2 linked regions of the Homo sapiens genome follow. The protein of the gene in region 2 interacts with the protein of the main gene of each other region in a pairwise test. Each region holds a gene or a part of one and is shown on either strand. Other genes may lie near its edges. The genes, in order: LRRN2 and NEUROD4.

Region 1 (3,391 bases), on a different chromosome or scaffold from region 2:
ACCCATTCCCTTCCCAGCCTATCTCAGAAACGGAGAGTGGTGGCTCAGTGGCCTCTGGCTCTGGCACAGCCCCTTGATGGGTCCACAGTGGCCCCTCTGCCCTTGGCTCTGTTGGCTTCCCAACAGATGTTCCTCTTCACATGTAGTCCTAAGAACTCAATCAGTTTAAAAACAAAAAAACTAAAAAAGCAAACCATGCTCATTGCAAATTATACCAAAATGAAATGGACAGATAGAATGCAGTAATTTCCTTATCCCATAGCCCTCCCCTCCCTAAATCCTCTATCACCCCATGCCCTGCTCCTGCCCTAGTGAGCCAAAGTTCTTGCTGTCTTGATGATTTGCAACTCTCTGCATGACTCTGCCTCTTGGGTTTGTTTAATTAGAAATAGGCTGGGAAGTGCTTCCTATGCTCTGGCATGTTAATTGCTTATCAGAGAAGGAGAAGGGGTGACGGCATTTGGTGATGGAAATTTCCGCTCTCCCCATCTCAGGTTCGTCTCCATGGTTCTCTCCCACCCCTCTCCTTGCCTCCTGCGCTCTGCCTCCCTCCCTTCCTCACTCTGGTCGTTGTCACAGCCACAGAGACTCTTGGGGGCCAGAAGCAGGCCCAGGGGCCAGAATTCAAACCGAAAAGGAAAAACTGTCCCCTCTTTCACTCTATCCCTTTTCTTGTCCCTCTTCTCATATCCCAGCTGGCCCCCATGCCCATCACCCTCCAGGCTCTGAGGAGAGTCCAGAGCAGAGCTCCTTAACCACACTCAATACTCAGAGGATTATTTTCCTTTCGTTCCTTTCCCCCGTATTATTGTTATTATTTATTTTTATTTTTTACAAAACAGGAGAAAAGAGTGAATCGGGTTGGGGGAGGTGACACATTTCTCCACAAAGGTACAAAATTGCCTATAGAAAGTCAGCTTCGGAATGCCGAGCCCAGGCTGCTGAGATGAGGCGTTCCTGGGCATCCCTCTCCCAAATGTCCTTCAGATCTGGCTGGGGTCACTCCCACATTGAGGGCAGCCCCCCGAGGTGAGATGGAGTGGCCTCCTTCAGCCCTTGCCCAGGAGGCACAAGAGCAAGCAACTGAGACTGTACAGAGAAAGAGAAGAGGAAGGGGTGCAGCCCGGGGACACAGGTAGGGGACAGCCAAGCCAGGCCCAGGAGCCTCTGGGCAGAGAGAAGATGGGGAGGCAGGAGGCTCTAGCCAAAGTCCCTCCTGTTCCTTGGAGATGTTCCTCAGAATGGCAGCAGAGGTGACCCTAGGAGGTAAGGGCAACTTTTTCGAGGCTGCAGAAGCACCCCCAGGGCCACAAAGCCCCATCTGTCTTGGCCCAGCTGCCAGGCCTCAAGCACGTGGGTCCATGTCCCTTTCCTGGCAGGGCATCTGGCCCAGACTGCTTCTCTTTTGGTAAAAAGTAGTCCTAGTGATTTCTCTACTGCTGAGAACAGGCTGAGCTTCAAGAATTTTGAGACAATGGTGGCAACAGTGTCTCCCCTTCTGAGGATCTGGGCAGCTTCCTCCCTGGATTCCAGGGCAGGACGAGGGGAGCAGACACAACCCGGACAGAAGGGGCACTCCAGCCCCAGAAAGCCCAGGCTGGAGGGAGAGGCCGCCTCCCACCCACACCCTTCCTGGGTTGGCCTGTGCCAAGGTGGGCCGCTAGCCCAGCTGCCAGGAGAAGGACAGCGAGAGCCAGGATGGCAATGAGCCCAGGACGGTCCCCTAAGGCTCTGTGGCAAGAAGTGGCCTCTTTGGTCCTGGCCCATACACAAGCCAACTGGGTGTGGGCATCAGCAAAGGCCACTTGCAGGCAGGCCCAGTACTCCGTGGCCTGAAGGAGGCGGGTAATGTTGTAGCTGTGGGTTCCCCGAGGCAGGCGGGCCAGAGCTGTGGCCCCCTGGCCCCGGAGGGAGGAGGCACTGGACCAGGTGAGGTTGGTGGACACTGTGTTGGGTGGGGTGACCCAAGATAGCAGGATGTGATAGGGGTGGGTCTCCTGCACCCGGAGCTCCAGCCCCTGTCCTTCGTCCCTGCCTGGCTGGAGGAGAGCACGGCCCACAACCACACTAACCGTCTTAGTGTCAGCCCCCACCAGGTTCTGGGCCACACAGGTGTATAGCCCTGCCTCTTCTGCTGTCACCCTCCGCAGCTCCAGGGTCCCCTCGGGGTACACCCGGTACCTCCTGCCTGCATGGGCAGGTGTCAGTCGAAGCCCAGCTGGAGTGACCCAGTAGATCTCGGGTTCGGGTTCGGCCAGTGCCCGGCAATGCAGCACCATGCTCTCTCCACTGGCTACCTGGAGGCTTGGGGGGAAGCTTCGTGGGGAGATGAGGGGCAAACAGTGGTCCGTCATCTCCCGGAAGGGCACCTCACGGACCGGGAGGCGCTGGAGGTCCGGAGGCTCCGCACACAGGGTGGATTGCGGCTCGATGAAGCGGACACGGGTGCCCGTGGCATTGGCCCAGCGGATGACACAGTCACAGCGGATGGGGTTGCCGTGGAGACCTACCTCCTGCAGGTTGGGCAGGGACTCCACCGTCTGCTGGTGCAAGGCACTGAGAGCGTTGTTGTTGAGCATGAGGGTCTCCATCTGGGGCAGGTGGTGGAAGGCGCGGGGGTGGATGAAGGACAGCCGTGGGTTATTGGTGATGTCCAGCTTGGTCAGCTCGGGGAGGTTCACCAGGGCAAACTTGTCGATGGAGACCAGCTCCTCCATGTTGTTCAGTCCCAGCTCCTTAAGGTGCAGCATGTTGGCAAAGTCCCCCGGCCCTACCCGCTGGAGCGGGTTCTTGTTGAGGTCTAGGAACTTGAGCCCGGGCACCTGTTCCAGTGCCCGCCTGGGCACCCGGGCCAGCTGGTTGTCATAGAAGGAGAGGCTCTCCAGGCTTTGCAGCCCCTCCAGGGCATAGTCGGAGATCTCCCGCAGGTTCATGCCTGCTAGCACCAGGCTACGCAGGTTGGCCAGGGGCCGGAAGTTCATGTCCAGGATGGCATCTACCTTGTTGCCGCCAATCATGAGTATCTCCAAGTTGGGCAGCATTTCAAACCAGCGGCTGTCAATGGCCCTCAGGAGGTTGGAGTTGAGGTGCAGCCGCAGCAAGTTGCTGAGGCCAGAAAAGGCCCTGGGGGCGATGCGGTAGAGCTGGTTGTGGTTGAGATAGAGTTCCTGTAGGCTGGCCAGCCCTGCAAAGCTGTGGTCCTCCAGCCGGGTCAGCTGGTTCTCCTCTAGGTGCAGGCTCAGCAGCTGGGGCAGGGCATGGAAATCACAGTCTCGGGCATCCGAAAAGCTGTTCTGGGACAGGTCCAGCTCTGTGAGATTGGCCAGGTAGCCCAGCTCACTCTGGTCCACACGGACAATGCTGTTGCTCTGCAGGAGCAGGGTCTGTGTGC
Region 2 (3,822 bases):
CTTTGCTCAGCTAGCTGCTTGTAGGACATAGAGCCCAAGAAAATGAATAAATGAGAGTGAATGAAAGATCTGAAGACTAACAACACAGCACAACACAACATCTAATAAGACTTACAGCTTTATTTCTGCTAGGAAAAAGGGAGGAAAAACAGTCATATTTTAAACAAAATATTTAAACAATTATTTTACTTTATCTAAAAAAGTCTCCAGAAGAATGAGACCACCCTATGTTGGAGAGCAGGCTCTTTACAAGCTATTGCATTCCTAAATTTTAATTCAATTATAAAATCCCTCTGTACAATTTCAGGGAGGCTTGGCTCATGGGTACCATACTCCCCAAAGGCATAAACAGCAGATTATTAAAGAATAACTCTGGCTCATTTTAGACTGAAGAAAAGACTCTAAAAACATTAACTTGCATAGCCATTCGAATTATTGCTGCTTTTTATAAAAATTATCACAGAGGTAATTCTCTATTTTTTCCTTTCCCCTCACTCCAAAACTCAGCAGTTCTTAGCAAAATTATGAGCTACTTTCCAAATAAAATTTTAGGAAGGGTTTGCAAGCACATCTATGGGGCTAAAGGAATTTTCGTGAAAGGAAGAGAGAAATAAATTAAATAAATAATATCTAATAAATAACTCAAACAACAGTGATTATCTACAAACTTAAATGCCAGAAAATGCTAGCTTCGAGGATAGACCCTCCTACAGCCGCTCACAAAGGTAAGTGCAGTATATACTCAGAAAGCACATAGTATGGCTTTATATATCATTTTACTTGCCTATTTCCTCTAGGGCAGATTGTGATGAAGGGAACCACTTTGGTGACTGATGGGGCTTAAGATCTCTCTGCAAGGCTACTTTCAAGTGAATTTACAAACCAAGGGTGCAAAATACAGCAGGGTAAGTGCTGAGAGCAAAATGGAAAAAAAATAACTTATACTGTATGGAGATAATAAATAAGAGAGGTAAACAGACAAGATACACATATAGTTGGCAGATTTTAGGGGATAGCTGAGCTATAGAAAATGACATACTAATATGTGTTATCATTTTTTAAATTGGCCCTATTGATGTACCCTGCATGTTAAACTTATCCTTTCTGGCAGGAGCAGGACCTAATCTACTATCAAATAAGCCATTCAGGCTCTGGTTTGACTTAAATAACTGTCCTGGCTGATTGAACAAGATAGGAAAATTTCTCAGGTCCCATTTTCTGAAAAAAAATACAAATTTGATGAAGTTAGCATTGATATAAAGGAAAAAGGAGTTACATAAAGAAAAATAAACACTCTGCAAATTGGGTTAAACCTGTGATGAAGACATAGTTGGTAAAAATATTCACCAACCTTGGATTTCATTTCTGCATCCTTAAGTTTGGTCACCTGAAATGTTATTTACAATATATAATAACATATTCTATCTTAGAAGTGAGGAAGAGGTAACAATTAGTGTAGGGGGAGAGATAAGGAACTACATATATGTTGGAAAAATTTAACCTTGATCAATAAATTGATTGGTGCTTGTGCTTCTGGAAAATATATTGGTGTGGACAGAGGTGGATGGTTTTAATCACGTTTAACCAAATGAAATTCATCTTGCTTAAAAAAAAATCCATTGGTTTTTCCCATGGGCAACTGTGAGCTGGAGAGAGTCCCTGAACTATAGTAGTTATTATAGCCAATAGCTATTTTATTGCTCTTTAATATAAACCTGTGTTGTGTGCTGATTCTAACAGCAGCACCTGAGCTTCATCAGAAGTTCCAGAGCCCTCTGGTTATGGAGGTCATGGTCTAAAAGACTTCTCTATGTCCCATTAGTTATAGGAGTCTGAGGCTTCAGTGACTTGTTTGCCCTACCTCTAGTACTGAGAAAAATGGTTTTGAAATATTATCAAGAATAAAGTTGGCATGAGGCCTCTATTATGGTTCTCTATTATGGTTCTTCAAATCATAAGGAAGATATGTTCAACTTTTAGTCTAATAACAAATAGAGTTAGTCTCTTAACGAACATGTTTTGTTCTTCACAGTGACAGCCATGTTAGACTTTTAGCTTCCAGAAGCTATTTTTCAATAGATACAAAGAGGTCCTATCATTAAATCCAAACAAGCTTTGCATTCTGTGAGCCAAGAGACATGTACCTTGTGATCCCTCTGATAATTCAATTTGATCATTCTATGCATAGCATCCCTTTCCTATTATTTCTCTATTCTTTCAGTTTCAAGAAATTGTCAAGAGTGATCACCACAGTTATAGCATTTCAGAACTGTGAAGGACTTTAGAAATCATCTGGACTTAGAATAGTTGCCTCATATAAATACAATTTGTTTATTTACAATTGCTAGTAAATAAACAAAGGCCAGAAATGGAAAATTAATTGGCACAGATTATGCAATGAGTTTTTGGCACCACTGGAATAGGGCCCAGGTCTTCTGTTCTATTTTCACATGGTTGTTAAATCATCAAATATTTTCACTTGAGGACTCTATAAAGAAATCAATGCAATGTGAGAAGGTGATGAGAAAAGAGGTGATAGGTGAAGGAAAGCCTAAATGGACTTGAACTATTGTTTGATATATATCCATAGGGATCCTTTAAGGTCATTGAATCTTTAGCTCAACCACTTGAATTATGGAAAATGTCTCCACGTCATTCTCTGAAACATTGAACTTAACTGCCTCACTCAGTGAAGACTGTATTGAGTTGGGTCCCAATACCATGATGGGGGTAGGAATCATAGGACATGTCTATAGGAACATCATAACGGGGGGTACCAGCCTGAAAAGGAGTTGAATGCACATGCCCTGAGCTTAGACTTGAAGAAGGGTAATGTGGCATGAAGCTGTAGGATTTTTCTAGGTCAGGAGACCCATCTTGCTTCAAGGAGAAGTTCCCACTGATGCTCAGGGGTGGAGTGAGTGGGCCCTCATAAGGGGGTGTACTGCAGTCAGGCAGATGGCTCCCAAAGGACGATTCTCCCAAACTCTTGAATACTTGGGGCTTGAGATGAAGGAGATGTGTTTCCATATGACCATAAGGAGGGCTAGGAAGCCCCGGAGACTGATAGTTGAAGTTGTGGACAGAGATGGCAGAGTCACAAATAGGAGATTTATCCTCGTGCTTCTCCAGGAGGACAGACTGAGGGCCCAGTTGGAGACATCCAGCCACCAGGTTGCTTGTGGGCTGAGAGAGCCCTTTACACAGCATCTCCACAAAGCCTTTCCCTTCAGGTGTCTGGCCAGTCTCCAGGACTTCAGATAAAGCCCAAATATAGTTCCTGGCCAGTCTAAGAGTCTCTATCTTGGAAAGTTTTTGGGTTTTAGAGTAGCATGGCATGACTCGCCTCAGGTTATCCAGGGCGTCATTCAGGCCATGCATCCGGGTCCGTTCTCTGGCATTAGCCTTGACTCTTCGAGCCCTGAATCTCTCAAGGCGAGCTTTGGTCATCTTCTTTTTCTTGGGACCCCTTCTCTTAGGTTTCTCCCCATCTTCTTCCTCTTCTTCTTCTTCCTCAATACTGTCATGCTCTTCAGTTAAGCTGCTGAGCATCCCATAAGTACCTGGTCTGCTCTCTTCCTCCTTCACCTCATTTTGGGAGCCCAGACCTTTATCCATCCAGGATGGTGTGTTGACTAGCTCTCCCATCTCCTTGGATTTTACAAAAGTTTTTGACATTTCCAGACTCTGGAAAAGGGAAATATCAAAGGTTAATTCCTGTGAGTACCTGATTTTATTTGAAACTAAAGTTTTTTATATGTAATTATCTTGTCCAAGTCTTCCATTCTAAATGACCAGTCCAAAACTGAAAGAAATTCCCAG

Evidence for each region.
Region 1: the proteins of NEUROD4 (region 2) and LRRN2 interact in a two-hybrid assay, tested with the Homo sapiens proteins (one large-scale study listed by BioGRID and IntAct).

What each region holds. Positions count from the first base shown.
Region 1 is NC_000001.11:204,616,394-204,619,784, forward strand, and holds the end of LRRN2 (leucine-rich repeat neuronal protein 2 precursor), read right to left. Parts: coding exon 1,458-3,391; 3' UTR 777-1,457; downstream 1-776.
Region 2 is NC_000012.12:55,026,296-55,030,117, reverse strand, and holds the end of NEUROD4 (neurogenic differentiation factor 4), read right to left. Parts: intron 3,688-3,822; 5' UTR 3,679-3,687; coding exon 2,683-3,678; 3' UTR 101-2,682; downstream 1-100. UniProt on the Homo sapiens protein: Probably acts as a transcriptional activator. Mediates neuronal differentiation. Required for the regulation of amacrine cell fate specification in the retina.